3 separate regions of the Homo sapiens genome follow, and regions 1 and 2 are each linked to region 3. The links come from fine-mapping of genetic effects on gene expression. A gene starts in region 3. Each other region holds a variant in brackets. All regions are shown on one strand. Distances are between the middles of the regions. Region 1 overlaps CPAMD8 (C3 and PZP like alpha-2-macroglobulin domain containing 8). Region 2 overlaps CPAMD8 (C3 and PZP like alpha-2-macroglobulin domain containing 8). Region 3 holds the start of CPAMD8 (C3 and PZP like alpha-2-macroglobulin domain containing 8).

What was found. PIP is the estimated chance that this variant, and not a neighbour inherited with it, causes the effect.
Region 1: its variant is the best candidate, but not a certain one, in a credible set for the expression of CPAMD8 in fibroblasts (GTEx, PIP 0.85).
Region 2: its variant is the best candidate, but not a certain one, in a credible set for the expression of CPAMD8 in whole blood (TOPMed, PIP 0.57).

The regions. Positions count from the first base shown.
Region 1 is chr19:16,903,474-16,911,651 of GRCh38, reverse strand. It overlaps CPAMD8 (C3 and PZP like alpha-2-macroglobulin domain containing 8), which reads left to right. Exons shown (of 42, transcript NM_015692.5): 30 at 4,535-4,700; 31 at 7,100-7,186; 32 at 7,290-7,426; 33 at 7,795-7,950; 34 at 8,029-8,091. It also overlaps the pseudogene RN7SL835P and the pseudogene RN7SL823P. Among named protein-coding and RNA genes, the nearest start is that of F2RL3, 19 kb to the right of the region's middle. The variant G/A (reference allele first, on the strand shown) is at 4,208.
Region 2 is chr19:16,951,167-16,959,344 of GRCh38, reverse strand. CPAMD8 (C3 and PZP like alpha-2-macroglobulin domain containing 8) reads left to right here. Exons shown (of 42, transcript NM_015692.5): 19 at 1,430-1,492; 20 at 7,145-7,376. Among named protein-coding and RNA genes, the nearest start is that of F2RL3, 66 kb to the right of the region's middle. RefSeq lists an enhancer at 7,071-7,634. The variant A/G (reference allele first, on the strand shown) is at 4,094.
Region 3 is chr19:17,022,951-17,031,128 of GRCh38, reverse strand. It overlaps CPAMD8 (C3 and PZP like alpha-2-macroglobulin domain containing 8), which reads left to right and starts at 4,319. Exons shown (of 42, transcript NM_015692.5): 1 at 4,319-4,578. The coding sequence starts at 4,487. RefSeq lists an enhancer at 3,239-4,147.

The DNA.
Region 1 (8,178 bases), 120 kb after region 3:
ATGGCGTGAACCTGGGAGGCAGAGCTTGCCGTGAGCCGAGATGGTGCCACTGCACTCCAGCCCGGGCAAGAGTGCCAGACTCTGTCTCAAAAAATAAAATAAAATAAAAATAAAAATACAAAAATTAGCTTGTGTGGTGGCGCATGCCTGAAGTCCCAGCTACTTGGGAGGCTGAGGCAGGAGAATCGCTTGAACCTGGGAGGCAGAGGTTGCAGTGAGCCAAGCTCGTGCCACTGCACTCCAGCCTGGGCAACCAAGCCAGACTCTGTCTCAAAAAAAAAAAAAGAACAAAAAAAAAAGGAGTCTGCCAGCAAATGCCTCACATGCTCACAGTTCACAATAGGGTTCATGCTCCCACGAGAATCTAATGCTGCTGATGGTCCGATGGGAGGTGGAGCTCAGGTGGTAATACAAGCGATAGGGAGTGGCTGTAAATACAGATGAAGCTTTGCTGGCTCACCTGTCACTCACCTCCTGCTGTGCAGCCCCTTCCTAACAGGCCACCAACCGGTACCAGTCTGTGACCCGGAGGTTGGGGACCCCTGTCTTAGATCGTTCCCCAAAGGAGGCAAAACCTGCTGTCTTCATTTCCTGTGGCTGCCATAACAAATTGCCACAAACTGGGTGGCTTAAAACAACAGAAATACATTCTCATTGCTTTGGAGACCAGAAGTGCAAAATCAAGGCATTGGCAGGCCCTTGCTCCCTCTGCAGGCTCTAAGGGAAGAGCTTTCTTTGCTGCCTCCAGCTTCCAGGGACCCCAGGCATTCTTTGGCTTGTGGCTGCATCACTCTAGCCCCTGCCTTTGTCTGCGTGTGACCTTCTCCTCTGTCTTCTCCCCTTCTCGTCTCTTAAACAACACTTGTTGCCATGTGCAGCAGGGCATTCCTGTAGTCCCAGCTACTCGGGAGGCTGAGGCAGGAGGATTGCTTGACCCAGGAGTTCTGGGCTGTAGTGCACTGCACCAATCAAGTGTCTGCACTAAGTTCAGCATCAATATGGTGACCTCTTGAGAGCAGGATGACCAAGTTGTCCAAAGAGGGATGAACTGGCCCAGGTCAGAAATGGAGCAGGTCAAAACTCCTGTGCTGATCAGTAGGGAGATCGTGCGTATGAATAGCCACTGCACTCCAGCCTGGGCAACATAGTGAGACCTGTCACTAATTTAAAAAAAAAAAAAAAAGGCGGGCCCAGTGGCTCCTGCCTGTAATCCCAGCTCTTTGGGAGGCTGAGGCGGGCAGATCACCTGAGGTTGGGAGTTCGAGACCAGCCTGACCAACATGGAGAATCCCCGTCTCTACTGAAAATACAAAAATTAGCTGGGTGTGATGGCGCATGCCTGTAATCCCAGCTACTCGGGAGGCTGAGGCAGAAGAATCGCTTGAACCTGGGAGGCGGAGATTGCGGTGAGCTGAGATCACGCCATTGCACTCCAGCATGGGCAACAAGAGTGAAACTCCATCTCAAAAAAAAAAAAAGTTAAAGGTTCTTGTCATTGGACGCCAAGCACAGTGGCTCATGCCTATAATCTCAGCACTTTGGGAGGCTGAGGCAGGTGGATCACATGGGTCCAGGAGTCCGAGACCAGCCTGGCCAATATGGCAAAAGCTTATCTCTACTAAAAGTACAAAAATCAGCCAGGCACCATGGCACGTGCCTGTAATCCCAGCTACTCGGGAGGCTGAGGCAGGAGAATCGCTTGAACCTGGAAGGTGGAGGTTGCAGTGAGTTAAGATTGCACCACTGCACTCCAGCCTGGGTGACAGTATGAGATTGTTTTAAAAACAAACAAAAACTCCCGTGCCGATCAGCAGTGGGATTGTGCCTATGAATAGCCACTACACTCCAGCCTGAGTAACACTGAGTAACAGTGAAACCTCTGTCTCTAATACAAATTTTTTTTTTTTGAGACGAAGTTTCGCTCTTATTGCCTAGGCTGGAGTGCAATGGAGCGATCTCAGTTCACTGCAACCTCTGCCTCCCGGGTTCAAGGATTCTCCTGCCTCAGCCTCCCAAGTAGCTGGGATTACAGGCATGGGCCACCATGCCTGGCTATTTTTGTATTTTTAGTAGAGATGGGTTTGTTTGTTTGTTTGTTTTCCCTTTTTGAGATGGAGTCTCGCTCTGTTGCCCAGGCTGGAGTACAGTGGCGCGATCTCGGCTCATTGCAAGCTCCGCCTCCCAGGTTCATGCCATTCTTCCACCTCAGCCTCCTGAGTAGCTGGATCTACAGGCGCTCGCCACCACGCCCAGCTAATTTTTTGTATTTTTAGTAGAGATGGGGTTTCACCATGTTAGCCAGGATGGTCTCGATCTCCTGATCTCATGATCCACCTGCCTCGGCCTCACAAAGTGCTGGGATTACAGGCGTGAGCCACCGTGCCCAGCCAAAAAAAATTTTTTAAAGATATTTGTCATTGGATTTGAGGCCACCTTAATCCAAGGTGATCTCATCTCAAGACTCTTAATTACATCTGCAAAGACCCATTTCCTAAATAAGTCAGCATTTACAGGTCCCAGGGAATATATCTTTTTGGTGGGCCACCGTTCAACCCGCTACACCTGTGCTGGAATCAGATGAGCTGGGGGGCAACCAGCAAATGACCTTGACCCCTTGGAGTTCCGTTGCATCCGCTTGTCTGTAAACGGGAGGATCTGCACAGCTGGGGCCGGGCTGGGTCCATCCCTGCTTGGTGTGGTCTCCGCAGCGTCCTTGAGACCCGTCCTGGCCCGCGTGACCTGGGGTAACTCCCATGTCACTGTTCCTGCCCCTGGGATGGGGATGTCCAACCTTCCCCCACCCCCAGGCAATGGACTTGTGAGGGCCAGTCCTAGGGTCTGGCTAGTCAGCCGGGTTCATCCCTGGCACATGCCTCCCAAAGGGCATCTCAATGTCACACCTTAGGGACAGTTCCCACGTTTGTCCTGGTCTAAGGATGGAAAGCTTTGGAAACATTCTTTCTATGACCAGGACAGTTCCGAAAGCAGAGTTAGCTCAACTCCATACCTCTATTGGGCCACCAGAAGACTCTGGTTCCATTGCTAAATTTGTTAATGCTTCTGGTCACTCATTTCTTCCACATAATATTATTGGGCAGCTTCTCTGAACCAAAACCATCAGTAGATTCTGGACTTGGTCCCTGTCTTCCAACAGATCACATTCTAGGGAGGGCATGAGCAGGGCTGGTGGGCTTCTCTAAGGAGGTGACCAGGCCTGGAGGCTGGGGAGGGCCTGGGCTGTGGAGGTCTTAGGAGCCAGCTTTTTATTTCTATTATTTTTTTTTTTTTTAAGATGAGGTCTCACTCTGTTGCCCAGGCTGGAGTGCGGTGGTGCAATCTCGGCTCACTGCAACCTCTGCCTCTCGGGTTCAAGGGATTCTTGTGCCTGCCTCAGCCTTCTGAATAGCTTGGATTATAGGCGCCCACCACCACGCCTGGCTAATTTTTGTATTTTTAATAGAGATGGAATTTCACCATGTTGGCCAGGCTGGTCTTGAACTCCTGACCTCAAGTGATCTGCCCACCTCGGCCTCCCAAAGTGCTGGGATTACAGGCATGAGCCACTGTACCTGGCCTTAGCTAGCTGTCTTAACAAAGACCTGGCCATGGGGCTGGGTGGGACAGGGTGGCCAGGACTCTGCCTGCTTCCCCTAGAGTATCACTGTGCTCATTTGCCATGCACTTGGGCATCCTGGCCAGACCTCATTTGGAAAAAGGAGTGCCAACTTACAAGAATGGTAATGGGAGCCAGGGGCAGTGGCTCACTCCTGTAATCCCAGCTCTTTGGGAAGCCAAGGTGGGAGGCTCGCTTGAGCCCAAGAATGTGTGACCAGCCTGGGCAACATAGTGAGACTCCATCTCTACAAAAAATAAAATGTTAGCTGGGCGTGCTGGTGTGCACCTGTAGTCCCAGTTACTGGGGAGGTCAAGGCGGGAGGATCGCTTAAGCCCAGGAAGTGAAGGTTTCAGTGAGCTATGATCGTGCCACTGCACTCCAGCCTGGGCAACAGAGTAAGATGCTGTCTGTATTTTTTTTTTTTTTTTTGAGACGGAGCCTCACTCTGTTGCCAGGCTGGAGTGCAGTGGCGCGATATTGGCTCACTGCAACCTCCAACTCCCTGGTTCAAGCAGTTCTCCTACCTCAGCCTCCCAAGTAGCTGGGATTAAAGGCATGTGCCACCATGCCCAGCTAATTTTTGTATTTTTA[G/A]TAGAGATGGGGTTTCACCATGTTGGCCAGGGTGGTCTCAAACTCCTGACCTCAGGTGATCCACCCACCTTGGCCTCCCAAAGTGCTGGGATTACATTGCGCCCAGCCTATTACCAAAAAAAAAAAAAAAAAAAAAAGGCAAGAAAGAAAAGAAAGGAGATGGGGTTTGAAAATTGGGTCTGCAGGCAGTGAGAGCCACAGAAGGATGCAAAGCAAGGGGCTAGGAGTCACCCAGAGCTCTCCTCGGGGATGCCTCAGAAGCCAGTGGGTGGGTGGGATGGGGGCAGAGCAGCCTCCCAGGTTTCACCTTCCCACCCCACCCTGCAGGAGGAGAGAGGCTCCACTGACAAAGCGAGGCACTTCCTGGAGTCTGCTGCGCCCCTGGCCATGGACCCTTATAGCTGTGCCCTGACTACCTACGCGCTGACCCTGCTCCGCAGCCCGGCAGCCCCTGAGGCACTGCGCAAGCTCCGTAGCCTGGCCATCATGCGAGGTAGGTGTCCCTGGCCCTCCCCAGAGGCCACAGCGTCGGGAAGCCCACTGTGGAGTCTGGTAAACAACTCATGAACATATTTATCACAACTGACGAGTCATGTAGTCCCAGCTACTCAGGAGGCTGAGGCAGGAGAATCGCTTGAACCCGGGAGGCGGAGATTGCAGTGAGCAGAGATCGCGCCATTGCACTCCAGCCTGGGTAACAGAGCAAGACTCCGTCTCAAAAACAAAACAAAACAAAACAAAAAACTGATGAGTCGACCAGGCGCGGTGGCTCACGCCTGTAATTCCAGCACTTTGGGCAGATCACTTGAGGCCAGGAGTTCGAGACCAGCCGGGCCAATATGGTGAAACCCCGTCTCTCCTAAAAATACAAAAATTAGCTGGGTGTGGTGGCAGGTGCCTATAACCCCAGCTACTCGGGAGGCTGAGGCACAAGAATCACTTGAACCCAGGAGGCAGAGGTTGCAGTGAGCTGAGATAATGCCATTAGAAAGAAAGAGAAAGAAAAGAAGGAAGGAAGGAAGGAAGGAAGGAAGGAAAGAAAGAAAGAAAGAAAGAAAGAAAGAAAGAAAGAAAGAAAGAAAGAAAGAAAGAAAGAAAGAAAGAAAGGGAAAGAAGGAAGGAAGGAGGGAGAGAAGAGAGAGAGGGAGGGAGGGAGGGAGAGGAAGAAAGGAAGGAAGGAAGGAGAAAGGGAAACTGACGAGATGCCTTTTGCTTGTCAATTGCTTTGTTGATTATAGTATTCATTCATTATCGCATCTGCTAGTGACTTTATTTGAGGAAGTGGCTTGTCCAAGTCACACCAGCCCCAAGCATCACTTTCCTTGCCTGTGAAATCTGGGATGCCAACCCCTCTGGAAGGGGAGTTCTCAGAGAGGGATCCCCAGCAGAGAACGCATCCCCCGCCTCCGGCCAGGCTTCCTGGAAATCATCCCAGGACAGGGGTGCTGGGAGACAGGGGAGGGTTGGGTCTCGCTTCCACCCTTCCCTCCACTTGCTGAGTGAGCCCTGGAAAGCTTTTTTGAGCTGTCAGTCTCCCCACCTACAAAATCATCACCCCACTGGGACTCCAATCCCTGAGCTTTGACTTTCTCAGAATGCCCCCAAACTTAGTCTCCTCCTACTTCACCCAGACCTCCCCACTCCACCCCTACCCCCAGCAGCTGCACTGGGGCTCAGACAGGTTTCTCTGCTTAAGCATTAAGATGCCACCTGAAGAATTGTTTTCATTGCTTCCGAAAGAAAAAAGTTTAAAGAGGATCCAGGGATGGAGTGGGAGGTGGTGGTGGTGGGCTGGTTTCTCTCTGGATTTGAGAGTCTTTACACCTCATGCGAGCTCAGAATCCTTGGAGCCTTTTTCTTTTTTTTTTTTTTTTTCTTTTCTTCCTTTTTTTTTTTTTTTTTTTGAAACGGAGTTTCGCTCTTGTTGCCCAGGCTGGAGTGCAATGGCGTGATCTCCTAACTCAGCCTCCCAAGTAGCCAGGATTACAGGCATGCACCACCATGCCCAGCTAATTTTTTGTATTTTTTAGTAGAGATGAGTTTCTCCATGTTAGTCAGGCTGGTCTCGAACTCCTGACCTCAGGTGATCCGCCTGCCTCAGCCTCCCAAAGTGCTGGGATTACAGGCATGAGCCACCGTGCCTTGCCATTCTTTTTAAATTATTATTATTATTTTTATTTATGTATTTATTTATTTATTGAGACAGTCTCACTCTGTCACCCAGGCTGGAGTGTGGAGTGCAGTGGCTCGGTATTGGCTCACTGCAACCTCTGCCTTCTGGGTTCAAGCAATTCTCCTGCCTCAGCCTCCTGAGTAGCTAGGATTACAGGTGTGCACCACCACACACAGCTAATTTTTGTATTTTTAGTAGAGATGGGATTTCACCATGTTGGCCAGGCTGGTCTTGAACTCCTGACCTCAAATGAGCCACTCACCTCAGCCTCCCAAAGTGCTCGGATTACAGGCGTGAGCCACTGTGCCTGGCCAGAATCTTTGAGCCTTTGCAAGTCGAGTGTGGCTGCTTGGGCACTAAGTAGGAACATCAGGGGCTGGATCAGTACCTGGTCAGGAGGGAGGCTATTGACTAGTGATGTCTGTGTCCAGGAAGGGGAAGGTGGCCTTTGATTAGTGATGTCTGCCAGGGGTAAGGTTGGGTAGCCATTGATTCACGATGTCTGCCAGGGGCACAGGAAGGGCTGGGGCTGCCATAGGTTTGCAGATCTGAGATGGAGCCCCAAGGCCCTTCCTGTTCCAGCTGTCTTCCCCTGATACTCTTCTCCCACTGGGGTCCCACAATACCTTTTCTTTAGACCCCATGCTTGGATGCGCTCCATGGGATGCCAGGCTACACACTGGGTGGGTTATAGCTCTTGACCACTCCTTTCCTTGCAGATGGGGTCACCCACTGGAGCCTGTCAAATTCCTGGGACGTGGACAAGGGCACATTCTTGAGCTTCAGTGACAGGGTCTCTCAGTCAGGTACTGGCCACCCCAGCTCCCGGGTGCCTGCCTTGGCCATACCTCCATGCACTGGGTCCATGTCCCTGTGTCAAAAGTCCCCAGTGGGCCTCTTCCATTGCAGTGGTCTCGGCCGAGGTGGAAATGACAGCCTACGCCCTTCTGACCTACACTCTGCTGGGTGACGTGGCTGCCGCCCTGCCTGTGGTGAAGTGGCTGTCCCAGCAGCGAAATGCACTTGGGGGCTTCTCCTCCACTCAGGCGAGCCGGGCAGGGCCAGAGGGAGGGGCTCAGGGCTGGGTGGGTGGGGTCCCTGCAGTCCTTGTTTTGAGCTCTGAGGTGGCCAGGCAGTCTGGCCCCTTCTCACCTTATGGAGCCCCAAAGAGGGCAGGGGTTGGGGGTGAGGGACAGATGCCCCTGGATCCCCCATGGGAGCCCAGCCTCTGCCTCTGGGGACACACCAACCTGGCTGTCCTGAGGCCCCCAGTGCCATGGGTGTCTGCACTGGGTCCAGTCTCTATTCCAGCCCCGTTGGTGCCTGTTTTAGGCTAGGCTTCCAAGACGGGGTTCAGGGGACCACTGGCCAACTCAGTCTCAGGGTTGATGGCCGTCTCCTCCTCCATCCCCAGGACACCTGCGTGGCTCTGCAGGCCTTGGCTGAATATGCCATCTTGTCCTATGCTGGAGGCATCAACCTCACTGTCTCCCTGGCCTCCACCAACCTGGACTACCAGGAAACCTTCGAGCTGCACAGGACCAACCAGAAGGTTCTGCAGACAGCAGCGGTGCGTGTTCCTGGGATGAGGGTTTGGGGGTTGTTGGAGGAGGGGTCAGCAGGGCCTCACGGTGACTTCTGTCTCCAGATCCCCAGCCTCCCCACGGGGCTGTTTGTGAGTGCCAAGGGGGACGGCTGCTGCCTGATGCAGGTGAGGTTTTGGGGAGCACGAGGTGATCTTGGGCTTGTCCTCCTGTGCCCCATTCCCTCCAATCACACAGTGGAACCCCAGGGACCC
Region 2 (8,178 bases), 72 kb after region 3:
AAATTAGCCGGGCGTGGTGGCACACCTGCAATTCCAGGTGTAATTCAGGAGGCTGAGGCATGAGAATCACTTGAACCTGGGAGGTGGAGGTTGCAGTGAGCAGAGATTGCACCACTGCACTCCAGCCTGGGTGACAGAGCAAGACTCCATCTCAAAAAAAAAAAAAAAGGGAAATGCAAATCAAAACCACAATGAGATGCCATCTCATGCCAGTCAGAATGGCCATTATTAAAGAGTCAACAAATAAGCTGAGTGTGGTGGCTCATGCCTGTAATTCCAGAACTTTGGGAGGCCGAGGCAGGTGGATCACCTGAGGTCAGGATTTTGAGACCAGCCTGACCAACATGGTGAAACTGCGTCTCTACTAAAAATACAAAATTAGCTGGGTGTAGTGGCAGGCGCCTGTAATCCTAGCTACTCGGGAGGCTGAGGCTGGAGAATCGTTTGAACCTGGGAGGCAGATGTTGCAGTGAGCTGAGATTGTGCCATTGCACTCCAGCCTGGGTGACAAGAAGGAAACTCCATCTCAAAAAAAAAAAAGAAAAAAAAAGTAAAAAAATAACAGATGTTGGTGAGGTAGTGGAGAAAAGGGGATGCTATGCATAGTTGATGGGAGTGTAAATTAGTTCAACCATTGTGGAAAGCAGTGTGGTGATTGCTCAAAGAACTAAAAACAGTACTACCATTTGAGCCAGCAATCCCATTACTGAGTATATACTCAAAGGAATATAAATCATTCTACCATAAAGACCCATGCACACAAATGTTCACTGCAGCACTATTTACAATAGCAAAGACCTGGAATCAACCTAAATGCTCATCAATGACAGATTGGATAAATAAAATGTGGTACAGAAATACCATGGAATACTATGCAGCCATAAAAAAGAACAAAATCATGTCTTTTGTGGAAACATGGATGGAGCTGGAGCCCATTATCCTTAGCAAACTAATGCAGGAACAGAAAACCAAATACTGCATGTTCTCACTTATAAGTGGAAGCTAAATGATGAGAACACATGGAAACAAAAGGGGGAACAGACACAGGTCTACTTGAGGATGGGGGATGGGAAGACAGAGAGGATCAGAAATAATAACTATTGGGCATAGGCTTAGTATCTGGGTGATGAAATAATCTGTACAACAAACCCCCATGACACACATTTACCTATGTAACAGACCTGCACATGTACTTCTGAACCTAAAATAAAGTTTTTAAAAAAACAAGTTATGTCCTAATCAAGTAGACTGTTAACCCTGCCAGGTAAGAGAATTAACATGTTATATCCCAGTGAAGTACAATGTTAACCCTTCCAGGTAAAAGAAATTAACGCGTTATATCTGATCAAATAGAATGCAAAGCTGCTAGGTTCACATAAGATTTGTTATGTTCATGAAACCTTAATCGTTTCTTTTTTTCTTTTCATAGAACAGAGAAGAGAAAAAGGACTTTCTTCCCCGAAACATGGATTTGGCATTGTCTCAACATCAGGTACATTAAGATTTCTTTTCTGCGCTGACTTTGCCGGTTGAGTGAAAGACACTCATGCGGGTCCAGAGAGCCTCCGGTGAGATGGGCAGGCCTGATACCAACATCTGAGCAAGACACTGTGCATCTTTTTCTAACACACAAAACTTCAAGCCATGAAGCCAGCCTTGAGTCCCGCTGCACATTTGGACGTTTGCCTGTGAAATATGAAATGCAAGGGCTTTGTGCCTCTTATAACTCCCTCTTGGGGTTACTCTATCTGCTCTGTTTGTATAACGAGCTCATTAAAATGATTACAGTTCCCTGGAACATGAACTTGACTCCACCTACCCCCACTCCTTGCTCCTCAGGGGACTACAGCTCTTGCTCAAAAAACAGGATGCCTTTCTCAACACATTTCCTTTCTGCATTTTTCCCCGTTTAGTTCTCTTTGAAGCAGGAGTGTAGGCAACCCTTTTCTGCTGGATGCAATTGACTTTTTTTCTTGCAATGCTCAGCGTTAGAGCACCAATGACACTAGTAAAAAGTGGCACTGGCGTGCCCCGGCAAACCAGTTTGGCATGAAAACTGACTCTTGGTCCAGCCCGGGCCAGCAGGTGGGCTGACTGCTGGAGCTGTGCCCTTCCTCCAGGCACAAGGTGCTGTGGCAAGTGCTTGGCAGAGCCAGGCACGCAGCTGGGGGCCCCTCAGACTGCTTTGGGGGATGTGTATGTCCTCATCGTGGGAAGGTTTGACTGCTGATCAGAACACATCCAGTTCACTGTGTTTTGTTCTGGGGGCCCAGCTGTAAGACAGGCTATCTGTCCATCATCATTCAAATGTATCTACTTTCTGGATGTCTGGTGAGCTTTTTTTATTGTTAAAAAATTTTTTCAATTAACTTTTATTAGGGCTGGGCATGGTAGCTCATGCCTGTAATCCCAGCACTTTGGGAGGCTGAGGCAGGTGGATCACGAGATCAGGAGATCGAGACCACCCTCTCTAACATGGTGAAACCCTGTCTCTACTAAAAACGCAAAAAATAGCTGGGCATGGTGGCGGGCGCCTGTAGTCCCAGCTACTCGGGAGGCTGAGGTAAGAGAGTGGCATGAACCTGGGAGACGGAGGTTGCAGTGAGCCAAGATGGCGCCACTGCTCTCCAGCCTGGGTGACAGAGCAAGACTCCGTCTCAAAAAAAAAAAAATATTTCATAGAGATGGGGTCTCTGTATGTTGCCCAGGCTGGTCTGAAACTCCTGGCCTCAAGTGATCTTCCTGTCTTGGCCTCTCAACGTGTTAGAATTACAGGTGTGAGCTACTGCTCCTGGCCCGGATGTTTTTGATGTTAAGGATGGTCCCTTGAATAAGGTAGACAGAGTCCCAGCACTCATAACATTTTCATTGTAGCTAGAGTAGACAGGTGCCTAAAGAGCCATCATGGTGCAGTGGGGTTAGTCTTCTGGAAGGCTGGGCATGGAGCTTGGGAGGCAGAGAAAGATGGTGGAATCCTTTGGAAAAGCCAGAGAGGGTCCTCAATGTAGGGCCCAAGCTGAGTCCCACCATATGAATAAGCAAGAAAGGGAAGGGTGTCCAGGAAGGACCAGCATGAGCAAGTGCTGCAAAGTAGGAGAGGCTGGTGGATTTCCACATGGTTGAAATGAGATGGAAGGAGCTGAGGAGGATGCAGGGAGTATGAGACCATGTGGGCTGTGGGGGTGGGGTTAGGGGTGCAGGTGTGGAGAGCCAGGGATTTGGGATTTAGGATTCGGGATGTTCTCTCTCCTCTCTTGTTGGCTGGAGCAAGGATGAATCAGAGGGGACAGATCTGAGACCAGGGAGGAGGTTCCTGCTGGACCCAAAAGAGGACTGGTCAACTCTCTTTTAAACCACACCCGTTTAAAGGCGGGGTGTGGTGGCTTATGCCTGTAATCCCAGCACTTTGAGAGGCTGAGGCAGGAGGATTGCTTGAGCCCAGGAGTTCAAGACCAGCCTGGGCAACATAGCAAGGCCCCATCTCTAAAAAAAATTTTTAAATTAGCCAGGTGTGGTGGCACATGCTTGTGGTCCTAGCTACTTGGGAAGCTGAAGTGGGAGGATCGCTTGAGCCCAGGAGGTTGAGGCTGCAGTGACACGAAATTACACCACTGCACTCCAGCCTGGGCTACAGAGTGAGACCCTGTCTCAAAAAGGGAAAATGATTCAAAAATGAATTGGTTTAAAAAATTATGGTGAAATACTCCACATAAAATTTACGATCTTAACCATTTTTAAGTGTATAGTTCAGTGGTATTAAGGACACTCACGTTATTGTGCCAACATCACCATCACCCATTTCTGTGACTCCTTTCATCTTACAAAACTGACACTCTGTCCCATTAAACACTCACTCCCCTCTCTTCCCTTCCCCCAGCCTTTGGTAACAACCCTTTCTGTCTCTGAGTTTGACTATTCTAGGGACCGCCTGTAAGTGGAATCATGTAGTATTTGTCGTTTTGTGACTGGCTTATTTCAACATGTCCCCAAGGTTCATCTTTGTTGGAGAATCCATGTCAGAATTTCCTTCTCTCTTTTTTTTTTTTTTCTTGAGATGGAGTCTTGCTCTGTCACCAGGCTGGAGTGCAGTGGC[A/G]CAATCTCGGCTCACTGCAACCTCTGCCTCCAGGGTTCAAGTGATTCCTCTGCCTTAACCTTCCAAATAGCTGGGACTATAGGCATGCGCCACCATGCCCAGCTATTTTTGTGTGTTTGTGTGTGAGACAGCATCTTGCTCTGTTGCCCAGGCTGGAGTGCAGTGGTGCGATCTCGGCTCACTGCAAACTCTGCCTCCTGGGTTCACGCCATTCTCCTGCCTCAGCCTCCTGAGTAGCTGGGACCACAGCCGCCCACCACCATGCCCTGCTAATTTTTTGTATTTTTAGTAGAGACGGGGTTTCACCGTGTTACCCAGGATGGTATCGATCTCCTGACCTCGTGATCCGCCCGCCTCGGCCTCCCAAAGTGCTGGGATTGCAGGCATGAGCCACCGTGCCCAGCCAATGCCTAGCTAATTTTTTGTATTTTAGTAGAGATGGGGTTTCACCATGTTGACCAGGATGATCTCGATTTCCTGACCTCGTGATCCACCCCCCTCGGCCTCCCAAAGTGCTGGGATTACAGGCGTGAGCCACTGTACCCAGCCTCCTTCCCTTTTAAGGTTGAATAATATCCTATTGCATGGATTCCCTCATTTTGTTTATCCATTTATTTTCTGTCGATGGACCCTTGAGTTGCTTCCACCTTTTGGCTATTGTGAATAATGCTGTGAACAGGGGTATACAAATATCCCTTTGAGACCCTGCTTCCCATTCTTTTGGGTGTATACCCAGAAGTAGAATTGCTGAATCATGTGGTAATTTTATGTTTAATTTTTTAAGGAACCTCCAGACTAATTTCCACAGCAGCTGCAGCGTTTTACATTTCTACTAACAGTGTACCAGGGTTCCAATCTTACCACATCCTCAGAAACACTTGCTGTTCTCTTTTTCTTTCTTTTCTTTTTTTTTTTTTTTGAGATAGAGTCTCGCTCTGTCACCCAGGCAGGAGTGCAGTGGTGCAATCTCAGCTCACTGCACCCTCCGCCTCCCAGGTTCACACAATTCTCCTGCCTCAGCCTCCCAAATAGCTGGAACTACAGACACGCACCACCACACCTGGCTAATTTTCGTATTTTTAGTAGAGACGGGGTTTCACCCACTACTTCTGGGTGTATACCCAAAAGAATGGGAAGCAGGGTCTCAAAGGGATATTTGTATACCCATGTTCACAGCGTTATTCACAATGGCCAGACTCCTGACCTCAAGTGATCCACCCACCTCGGCCTCCCAAAGTGCTGGGATTATAGGTGTGAGCCACCATGCCCAGCCTTTTTTCTTGCCTTTTCTTTTTTAATATCCTAATTAAGTACATGAAGTGGCATCTCATTGTGGTTTTTATTTGCATTTCCCTAATGATTAGTGATGTTGAGCATCTTTCATGTATTTATCAGTCATTTGTCTATCTTCTTTGGTGAAATGTCTATTCAAGTAATTTGCCCATTTTTGAATCATGTTGCTGTTTTTGTTATTGAGTTTCAGGAGTTCTCTATATATTCTGGATATTATTTCCTTATCAGATATATGACTTGCAAATATTTTCTCCCACTGGGTTGACTTTTTACTCTGTTGATAGTGCCTTTTTTTTTTTTTTTTTTGAGACAAGGTCTCACTCTGTCACCCAGGTGTTCAAGTGATCCCCCAACCTCAGCCTCCCAAGTAGCTGGGTCTACAGGTACACACCACCACTCCTGGCTAAATTTTTTAATTTTTTGTAAAGATAGGGTCTTGCTGTGTTGCTCAGGCTGGTCTCAAACTCCTGGGCTCAAGTGATCCTCCTTCCTTGGCCTCCCAAAGTGCTGGGATTACAGGAGTAAGCTACCATGCCAGCCCTTGAATAGTGTCTTTTGATGCTCAAAATTTTGCAGTTTTCATAAAGTCCAACTTGTCTACTCTTTTTTTTTTTTTTTTGCTTGTACCTTTGTTTTCATATCCATGAAATCATTGTCAAACCCAATGTCATGAAGCTTTTGCCCTGTTTTCTTCTAAGAGTTTTATAGTTTTAGTTTTTACTTTCAAGTCATGGATTCATTTTGAGTTAACTTTTGTATATGGTGTTAGGTAAGGTCCAAATTCATTCTTTTGCATATGGATGTTTGCTTTTTCTAGCAGTATTTGTTAAAAAGATTGTCTTTTCCCTAAAGTATCTTGATGCCCTTGTCAAAAATCATTTATCTGTGTCGTCAAGGTTTATTCCTGGGCTCTCTATTTGATTCCATTGGTCTGTATGTCTGTCTTTATGCCAGTAACACATTGATTTGAATATGGTAGCTTTGTGGTAAGTTTTGAAGTGTGAGCTCTCCAGCTTTATTCTTCTGGTTTCTTTGTTTGGCCACCAGGATCCCTTGAGATCCATGTAAAATCTCAAGGTGGAGTTTTCTATTTCTGCAAAATAAAATAAAATAAAAAGTCATTGGGGTTTATGATAGGGGTTCCATTGAATCTATAGATCACTTTGGGTAGTTTTGACATTTTAACAAGTCTTTCCGATCCATGAACATGGGAAATGTTTTCATTTATTTATGTCTTTTTTTGTCTTTTTTAGTTTCTTTCAATAATATTTTTGTGTGTGTGTGACAGGGATCTCACTCTGTTGCTGAGGCTGGACTGCAGTGGCGGGATCACAGCTCACTGCACCCTCGACCACCTGGGCTCAAGTGAATCCCCCACTTCAGCCTCCTGAGTAGCTGGGCCTACAGGCATGTGTCACTATACCCACCTAATTTTTAAATTTTTTGTAGCAACACGGTCTCATCATCTTGCCTAGGGTGGTCCGGAACTCCTGGGCTCGGGCAGTCTCCCACCTCGGCCTCTCAGAGTGCTGGTATTACAGGCATGAGCCACTGCGCCCAGCCCATGTTTTCTATTAGAGTCAGGGCTGAGGGACAGTTTTTTTCCTGTTGCCGCTTTTGTGATGCCTTCAATGCTTGTTTCTAAGCTCCTAGGGTGCCTCTCTGAGCCATGCAGCCTGGGTCATCCATGCCCACTGGCCCCCCTGAGGCATGGCCCTGGAGAAGGGCCCCCCATCATGGCTGTCTGTCTCTCCGCAGTGACCCATCTGGTGAGGGGACACTCAGTGTGAAGGTCCCGGACTCCATCACCAGCTGGGTGGGTGAGGCCGTGGCCCTGTCCACCTCTCAGGGCTTAGGCATCGCCGAGCCCTCCCTGCTGAAGACCTTCAAGCCCTTCTTCGTGGACTTCATGCTCCCCGCTCTCATCATCCGTGGGGAGCAGGTCAAGATCCCGCTCAGTGTCTACAACTACATGGGCACCTGCGCTGAGGTACTCAGCCCCCCAAATACATAGCCTTCCTCCATTCAGTGGGGAGTTGGGACTGCATTGGTGCTATAAGGTAGGCAGGGGTGGGACAGTGTCAGCTTGGGGGATTTAGGAGGGCGAGAGCCTCTATGATGTTGAGGAGGCAGGGATGGGTGGGCTCAGCCTGGGGGGCTTTGGGGAGGATGCGTCATCTGTGCTGTCAGGGAGGCAGGAGTGGGATGAGATCAGCCTCTGATTCACCAACCGTCAAAGCCGGGTGAGGAGGAGGTGGGGACGCATGTGTGTGAGTGAGAGGGACTTGGTGTAAGTGGAGCTGTTGTCCCTGACTCCCTGGCCTAGCAAGGGCGTGCCTGGACTGGTATCATATATGATAGCATGGAGCTTTCTCTGTAAAGGGCCAGATAGGAAATATTTCTGTCTTTGCCAGCCACACAATCCCTGTGGCAGCGACTCAACTCAGCCCTTATAGCATAAAAGCAACCTAGATGATCTCTTACCTGAATAGATATGGCTGTGTTCCAATAAAACTTGATTTCTAGACACTGAAATCCGAACTCCATAGAATTTTCACCTGTCACAAAATAATCATTCTTCTTTTAATTTTTTTTCCTCCTAACCATTTGAAAAAGATGAAAACCATCTTTAGCTTGTGGGCCCAAAAGACAGGTGGTGGATCCGGTTTGGCCTATGGGTCTTAATTCACAGGCTCCCCACAAAGTACCAGGAAATCCTGGTGGTGAACAGAGAGGGTGCTTGGGATCCCGGTTTATACTCATAGAGCTGCTGATCTTGGGCACGTTATTCA
Region 3 (8,178 bases):
TGTATAATGTGTTTCATTGCAAATCGGTATAATTTAGTTTTTAGTCATGGCTTTGTTAACTCAGGCTTGTATAATTCATGGAATAGTATCAACTGACTCTTCTAAGCAGCGAGCCTTCTCCCGTGTGCTGATGAGGCAGTAATCTGTGTGAGGTGTGCCCACTTTGAGCCAGGGGCTGCGGCCAGCAGCAAACGGGGGGCTCACATCCCAAAGAAGACAGACAGGAAGCAGATGTGTATGGAATAATAAGACCATGCTCTGTGTTTTGTGTACCATGCAGTCAAACTGGATGACCGGGCCATGCTAGTGTCCTCATTGGCTCCTATTCACCCATGATCTAAATCAAGGGTCCCCAACCCCTGGGCCACAGACTGACACTGGTCTGATATTGGATGAGTAAGCAAAGCTTCATCTGTATTTACAGCCTCTCCCCATCGCTCACATTATCGCCCGAGCTCCACCTCCTGTCAGATCAGCGGCAGCATTAGATTCTCAGAGAAGCCCAAACCCTATTACAAACTGTGCATGCGAGGGATCTATGTTGCATGCTCCTTATGAGAATCTAATGCCTGATAATCTGCCACTGTCTCCCATCACCCCCAGGTAGGATCTCTGGCTGCAGGAAAACAACAGCTCAGGGCTTCCACTGATTCTACGCGATGGTGAGTTGTATCATTATTTCATTATATTACAATGTAACAATAATAGAAATAAAGTGCACAATAAATGTCACGCACTTGATCATCCCAAAACCATCACTGTCCCTCCCATCACCTTGCCCCTTGTCCATGGAAAAAATGTCTTCCATGAAACCTGTCCCTTGTGCCAAAAAGGTTGGGGACTGCTGCTCTAAATAGTATGAGATGGGCCCGGCACAGTGGCTCATGCCTGTAATCCCAGGACTTTGGGAGGCTAAGGCAGGTGGATCACATGAGGTCAGGAGTTCGAGAACAGCCTGGGCAACATGGTGAAACCCTGTCTCTACTAAAAATACAAAAATTAGCCAGGCATGGTGGCAGGCGCCTATAGTCCCAGCTACTTGGGAGGCTGAGGCAGGAGAATCGCTTGAACCCGGGAGGCATAGGTTGCAGTGAGCTGAGATCACGCCATTGCACTCCAGCCTGTGTGACAGAGTGAGACTCCGTTAAAAAAAAAAAAAATAGGCCGGGCGCGGTGGCTCACTCCTGTAATCCCAGCACTTTGGGAGGCCCAGGAGGGCGGATCACGAGGTCAGGAGATCAAGACTATCCTGGCTAACATGGTGAAGCCCCGTCTCTACTAAAAATACAAAAAATTATCCGGGCGTGGTGGCGGGTGCCTGTAGTCCCAGCTACTTGGGAGGCTGAGGCAGGAGAAAAGTGTTAACTCGGGATGCGGAGCTTGCAGCGAGCCAAGATCGCACCACTGCACTCCAGCCTGGGCGACAGAGCAAGACTCCGTCTCAAAAAAAAAAAAAAAAGAGTATGAGATGGCCAAACATACAACATGTGACATTGGGTGGGTGAGATCTACAGTTTAGTGCTCACCTATTCTCACACAATGACGGGAGGAGGACCCTGTACACTGTGTGAGGCCACACAGGGGTTGCACTCGGGAGCACAATGAACAAGCAGGGGCTGTGGGAAGCAGGCTTTGTAGTAATAAGAGGGTGAGGCAGCCCCTGGTTCTCCTGGGAGGATGTGATTGGTTTCTTTCTTTCTTTTTTTTTTTTTTTTTTTTTGAGACGGAGTCTCACTCTGTCACCCAGGCTGGAGTGCAGTGGCGCAATCTCGGCTCACTGCAAACTCCACCTCCTGGGTTCAAGTGATTCACCTGCCTCAGCCTCCCGAGTAGCTGGGATTACAGGTGTGCACCACCACACCTGGCTAATTTTTGTATTTTTAGTAGAGATGAGGTTTCACCATGTTGGCCAGGCTGGTCTTGAACTCCTGGCCTCAGGTGATCCACCTGCCTCGGCCTCCCAAAGTACTGGGATTACAGGCATGAGCCACCACGACTGGGCATGGCTTGTTTCAATAACTTCTCAGCAGCTAGGGAAGTGAAGTCTGTGGCTGATGGGTGGGGTGCAGCTGGTCTGGTTGCTTGGTGAGACAGCCAGGTGGAGAGCAGCTTCTCTTGCCAGGCAGGGGGCATATTTGGCAAGAGTAGCTGAACGGTCGGTCAGGACATCGTGGTCCTGTGTGGCTCAACCATGCCAAGGCAGCACTGACATTTTAGACCTTACAAACCAGGCAGGCAGGGAAGGCACCTCCGGGCTAACCCTGAAGGTGGAGGAGAGCAGCCGGTCTTGTGATGCCACGGGGAAGTGCATCCCAGGCAGAGGGGACAGCTGGCACCTTGGCCCAAGATGGTGGTGGTGGGTGGGGGTCTGATGTATCTCAGGAGCAAATGTGGCCAGAGCCCAATGGTCAAGGGGGAGGCGGAGGGCTCAAAGGCTGGCCTGGAGGCTGAGGAGTGGAGGTTGGCTTAGGTAGGAGTCAGAGTTGGCCTGGAGGGGCCCGGAGGGGTGGCATGGGGCAAACTTCGATGATGAGGGTGAGATCAGATGCTGCTTCTTGGTGCTAGATTTTTGCACCTCCATGTGAGTTTAGCAGCCTGTTTGGGGTTGGCCTGGTCTGAGCTTGGAGGCAGGCAGCTCCTCCTCTTCTCCAGGCAGGAGAGACGGCTACTCAATCTACTCCGGCCCCTGCGCGCGTGCACGCACACACACACACCAACACACCATCATCAGTTACGTCCCCTCTGGGTTGTGTGCTCAGTGGCAGCAGGTCCTGTATGTCCCAGGGTCCTCATTGCCCAGCCCAGGGCTTGGTGCTGCCTGGGTGATCAGTGTTGGGTCCAAAGGCTGTTGACAGGGCTGAGAAGCCCCCAGAGGACCCACATCCCTAGGGGCAGGGAGGGGGCAAGAGAAGCTTCCCTTGAGTTTCCTGGAAGGATCAGGAGTTGGACTGGCAAAGGAGGCAGGTAGAGGAAGACAGAGATTAGGCAGAAGCAGGCAGTGGAGTAAGAACAGGGTGTTGGAGGAACTAGGCTGAGGTCTCTGCCATCAAAGCCAGAGTTTAGATTTGGTCTCAATAAACGGGAAGCCCTGGCTGGATGTGGTGGCTCACACCTGTAATCCCAGCACTTTGGGAGGCTGAGGAGGGAGGATCATTTGAGCCCAGTGCTCAAGACCAGCCTGGGCAACACAGTGCGACTCCGTTTCTAAAAAAAAATATATAAAAATTAGCTGGGTGCGGGCTTGCACCTGTAGTCCCAGCTACTCTCCAGGAGTCTGAAGCTGCAGTGAGCTGTGACTGCACCACTAAATTCCTGCCTGGGCAACAGAGCAAAACTCTGGTCTCAAAACATAAAAATAAAATGTAAAATAAACAGGGAGCCCCGAGGATTCCGGGCAGGAGGGGGTGTGGTCAGCACTGGAATTTTAGAAGAAGGGCAGTTGGTAGCTGGGGGAAGGGGGTTCCACACTGGAAGGAGGGGGTCCAGGACTTGGACATGGTATAGGATGTGCCGCCTGCCAGTGGGACCTAGGACAGCAGGACCATCACTGAGGTGGCCACACGGGGAGGGGCAGGAGGGGACACCCTGCTCTTGGAGAGAAAGGGGGTGCCCATCCACCCCTGCTGTATGAAGGGGAAAGGGGGACTCTGAGGCCCAGCGAGAGAGGGGACGGGCCCAAGGGATTTGTGGACAGTGGGGGTGGGGGAGAGGGGAGCAGAGAGCACAGATAGGGACCTGGGGCAGATGTGAGTCTGGGAGGTTCGACCCCTGGCTAGACTGTTTCCCCAAAGGGTCCTCTGCTCCTTGGGCTGTACGCACTGCACTGGGCACTAGATACAGGCCAGGGCTTAGGGCACGGCGGCGCCTGTGGGATCGGGGTTGCAGGCGGCGTCCAGACCCAGGGGCCCCTGGTGAGGGGCGGGCCCGGGGAGGGGGCCATAAGGGGCTGGCTGGGGAGGGAGGGAGGGAGAGGCCAGGGAAGGGACAGGTTCCGAGTGGACGCTGGGTGGAGAGGAGAGGGAGAGTGGGGGCGGTGGGGGGTCGGGTCCGAGGCGGGGCTGGTGGGGAGGGGGGCATCCGGGGGCGAATCCGGGTAGGGGGTGAGGAGGCGGGTTCGGAAGGAATCGGGCAGGGCCCGGGTGGGTCCGGTGAGTAAGTGAGGGGACGATCCCCGGAAGGGATCGGGGCGGGTCGGGGTCCGGAGATGGGCGGAGCAGGCGTCCCGGGAGGGTGCGCCCAGGAGCGGGGCGAGCGGGGCGAGCGGGGCGGTCCCGGAGACGAGGCGGGTCCGGGGAGGGGGCTGGCCCGGGGCTGCCCCAGCTTGGCCGGGCGCGGAGCGGGGCGCATGGCGCCGGGCGCACTGCGCGGGGGCTGCGAACAAAGGGCCCCCGGCGGCGGCGCGAGGACGGCCGCGCTCGGACCCTGGCCCTGGCCCAGCCCTGGCCCGGCCCCCTCCCCAGGCGCGGCGCCCCCCAGGAGCCGAAAAATGAGCGGCGCCCTGCTCTGGCCGTTGCTCCCGCTCCTGCTCCTGCTGCTGTCGGCGCGGGACGGCGTGCGCGCCGCGCAGCCTCAGGCCCCGTGAGTATCCTCCGGCGACAGAGGAGGTCGGTCGCCTTCTGGGGTGGGGGTCGCGGGTACTGGCTCAGAGTGTTGCAGCGACCTGCCCAAGGCCACACAGCCTCCGCGCTGGGCTGGACCTGGCCTCTTGTTCCCGAATCGTCTTGAGGAGGGGGCGCCCTAAAGTTTCCGAAGTGGCTCTGTGGAGGTACAGGGACTCCCAAAAGCTAAAGGTGCTGAGGTCAGCTCCCCCCGCCCCACCTCGCCCCCTTCGTGTGACCCGGGCTGTCATCATGGGTGGCGATTTCCAGTTGTCCAAGGTATGAAGGTAAGAGGAGCGTCTTGGCTGAGAAGTGGGAGGAGAGTGCGAAGGGGCACTTTCCCGTGGGTGGGCGTGGTGAGGGAGGAGGAAGTGTTTGTTTTGCTTCTACATTTTTCTAGAGGTTTGCTTGCAGGCTTCTGGTGGGTTGACAGCGGGGAGAAGGTGAATTAACTAACTGCTGGGGAGTACTGCTAAGTTGGCTTCACAGAGAATATTTCTAAACCTGGCAAGTTCGGGTGAGCTCTGCAGGGCTGCGGGTTCAGGGGGGCTGCCCTGGTCTGCACAAGACCAGCCTTTTAGTCCAGCTGGGCGTTTAGAAGGCGGCTTGTTCAAGCAGCCCTTGTTTAGGAGTTTCCAGAAAACTGGTAAGCAGTGAGACTAGGTGGGTGTCGTTATTTGCAGTGAGTAGTTGGTCCTTGCTGGTCACAGTTTTAAAAGCAAGACAGTCTACTGCGCTCTGAGCATCCAGACTTCCCTCTCCTAGGCTTCGTGAAATCGGAACCCTACAAATTTTCATCCTAATGCTTCTTTCAAAGCTGGCATCCCTTAGAATAGTGGTTCTCAGCCCTGGGGGGGATTTTTGTCTCCCTGAGGCCGCTGGGAAATGTCTGGAGGTATTTTTGGTTGTCACAAATAGGGAGAGGCATTTGGTGTTGGCATTAAGTGGGTGCAGGCCAGGAATGCTGGTAAACAGCTTTCGATGTGCAGGTCAGCTTCCACTGCAAGGAATGACGCGGCCCCACATGACAGACCTTGGCTCCAATGAGAGACCCTGCCTTATACAGAGGTTTTTGTTTGTTGTTTGTTGTTTTTGGGGTTTGTTTTTGTTTTTGTTTTGAGATGGAGTTTTACTCTTGTTGCCCAGGCTGGAGTGCAATGGCACGATCTTGGCTTACTGCAACCTCCGCCTCCCAGGTTCAAATGACTCTCCTGCCTCAGCCTCCTGAGTAGCTGGGATTACAGGCGTGTGCCACCACACCCGGCTAATTTTTTGTATTTTTAATAGAGATGGGGTTTCTCCATGTTAGCCAGGCTGTTCTGGAACTCCTGACCTCAGGTGATCCACCCACCTCCGCCTCCCAAAGTGCTGGGATTAGAGGCGTGAGTCACCGTGCCTGGCCCGTTAGAGAGTTTTAAACAGTTCTCCAGGGCGTTTTCCTCTGACTAAAGTCACCCTGTGATCTTACCATCTGTTAAGTGACATGGAATCCCTGTGCTGAGAGACACACTGGGGAAGAGATGTCCCCAAATGACCGACCTGGGATTCCAGATTAGCTGGCCTCTAAGCCAGGGGCATGGTTCACCCAGCCCAAAGGATCTCGTCTTAGGAATAGCTCTGGATGCCCACTTCTGTCACCTGAGAGATTTTTGTGTGAGGAATCTCTGATCCCAGAAAGCAGCACAGTTTGCAGTTGTAAGAGCAATTCTGTCTACACTGACCCAGACATCCCTTTCCCCAATCTGGGACCTTCTGAGACCAGCAGGATGAGAAGCAGTGTTGGCCCAGATGCTAGGGGTGGGTCAGGTGTGACAGTGAATGGCTGGCAAGCATCCCAACAGCTGGAAACAGCTGCAACTTCTGAATGGCAGGGAAACTTAATTTGGTGATGTCAGTTTCTCTGGGCAGTTGGATGAAGACTTGAACCCGTATTGTCAGGAGTTTCAAAGGTGACCAAGCAAAATGAACACGTATTCCTTACTCTCTCTTCTACACTCACCATGTACTATATGTGAGGCCCGTCTAAACTCTAGGGATCAGCTGGGAGCCAGACAGAAAGAGTATTCCCCTTTTAAAGGATGCCACATTCCAGTGCTGGAGCTGGACAGGACACCTGGACAGGGTAATTGCATGTCCTGGTCAGTGCTGGAGTTATGTAATACACAGCACATACCCAGGGTCTTGCAAACTCCAGTTGGTCCTAGAGTTGGACAGCACATGTGTGATCCCAGGGGACTGAACTCTGGTAATTATTCAAGGCAGATGTAGCACACTATGATCACAGGGTCAGTGCACACTGTGGCCAGGGCTGCAGTAAACAACCCAAACCCATTGTTCGTGTGCATGAAACAACACAAACCCACTGCGTCTTTTGAGATGCAAAATTGGTAATGATGTTTTCATGAAGTTTGGTTTATCAGTGAGTTATTTTATGGATCTTATTTTTGGTATCTTACTCAAGAAATCTTTGCCTAATCTAAGCATGCAATGACTTTCTCCTTTGTTTTCTTCTAGTGTTTCTACAAGTTTTACTTCTTCAATTTAGATCTGTTACTAAGATTAACTTTGAGTTAATCTAATTGCATGGTGTGAGGTAATGTTCTCAATTCATCTTTTTGCATGTGGATGTTGGGTTGTTCTAGAGACACTATTGAGGCCAGGTGCAGTGGGCCTGTAATCCCAGCACTTTGGGAGGCCAAGGTGCGCAGATCACTTGAGGTCAGGAGGTCAAGACCAGCCTGGCCAACATGGTGGAACCCAGTCTCTACCAAAAATACAAAAATTAGCTGGGTGTGGTGGTGCACGCCTGTAGTCCCAGCTACTCTGGAGGCTGAGGCAGAAGAATCCCTTGAACCTGGGAGGTGGAGGGTACAGTGAGCTGAGATCACACCACTGCACTCCAGCCTGGGCAACAGAGCAAGACTCAGTCTCAATTAAAAATAAATAAATAAATAAATAAAAATAAAAAAAGAAAATATTGAAATGAAAATGTCTCCTAATCTCATTGCATGGTCCAGTTTCCCCCTTTACCCTCTTTTCTTCTGATTTCCATCATTCTACATGGTTGCAATTGTGGTGCCTTTGCTATAATGCTCTTGGTGATTGTGGGGACACTGTAAGCATTTCATGAGGTTACAGGGCCTTTGTAATTTTCCATGGAAGGCTGCAGATACTGGGAGACAGGAGCTCAGGTGGGGAGGACCTGGGCCCTCAGGTCAGGTCCCCTAAGGGCACCTCAGTGCCCTCTTCTGCCTGGCTGTGTGATCTGGTGCATGTTCCTATTCTTCTGAAGCATCAACTTCCCATGGGGAAACTGGGGGTAATGCCTCCCTTCCAGAGGTGACTTCATAGTCAATCAGAAGATTTTAGGAAAGAGAGGCCTGCTTTGATTCCATTGTTTTCAGAGCTCTTTTTGTTTGAGGCCCTATGGTTTGTTTTCAGGGTTTGTTCTTAAAATGAATGTTGCAAAGAAGCCCTTTGCTTCTTTTTATCAGGTTTTGGAGTCTGACCGCCTGAGTTAGAATCCTGGTCTGTCACTGTTGCGGCTGGTGACTTGACTTCTCTGGGGTTTCCTTTCTGA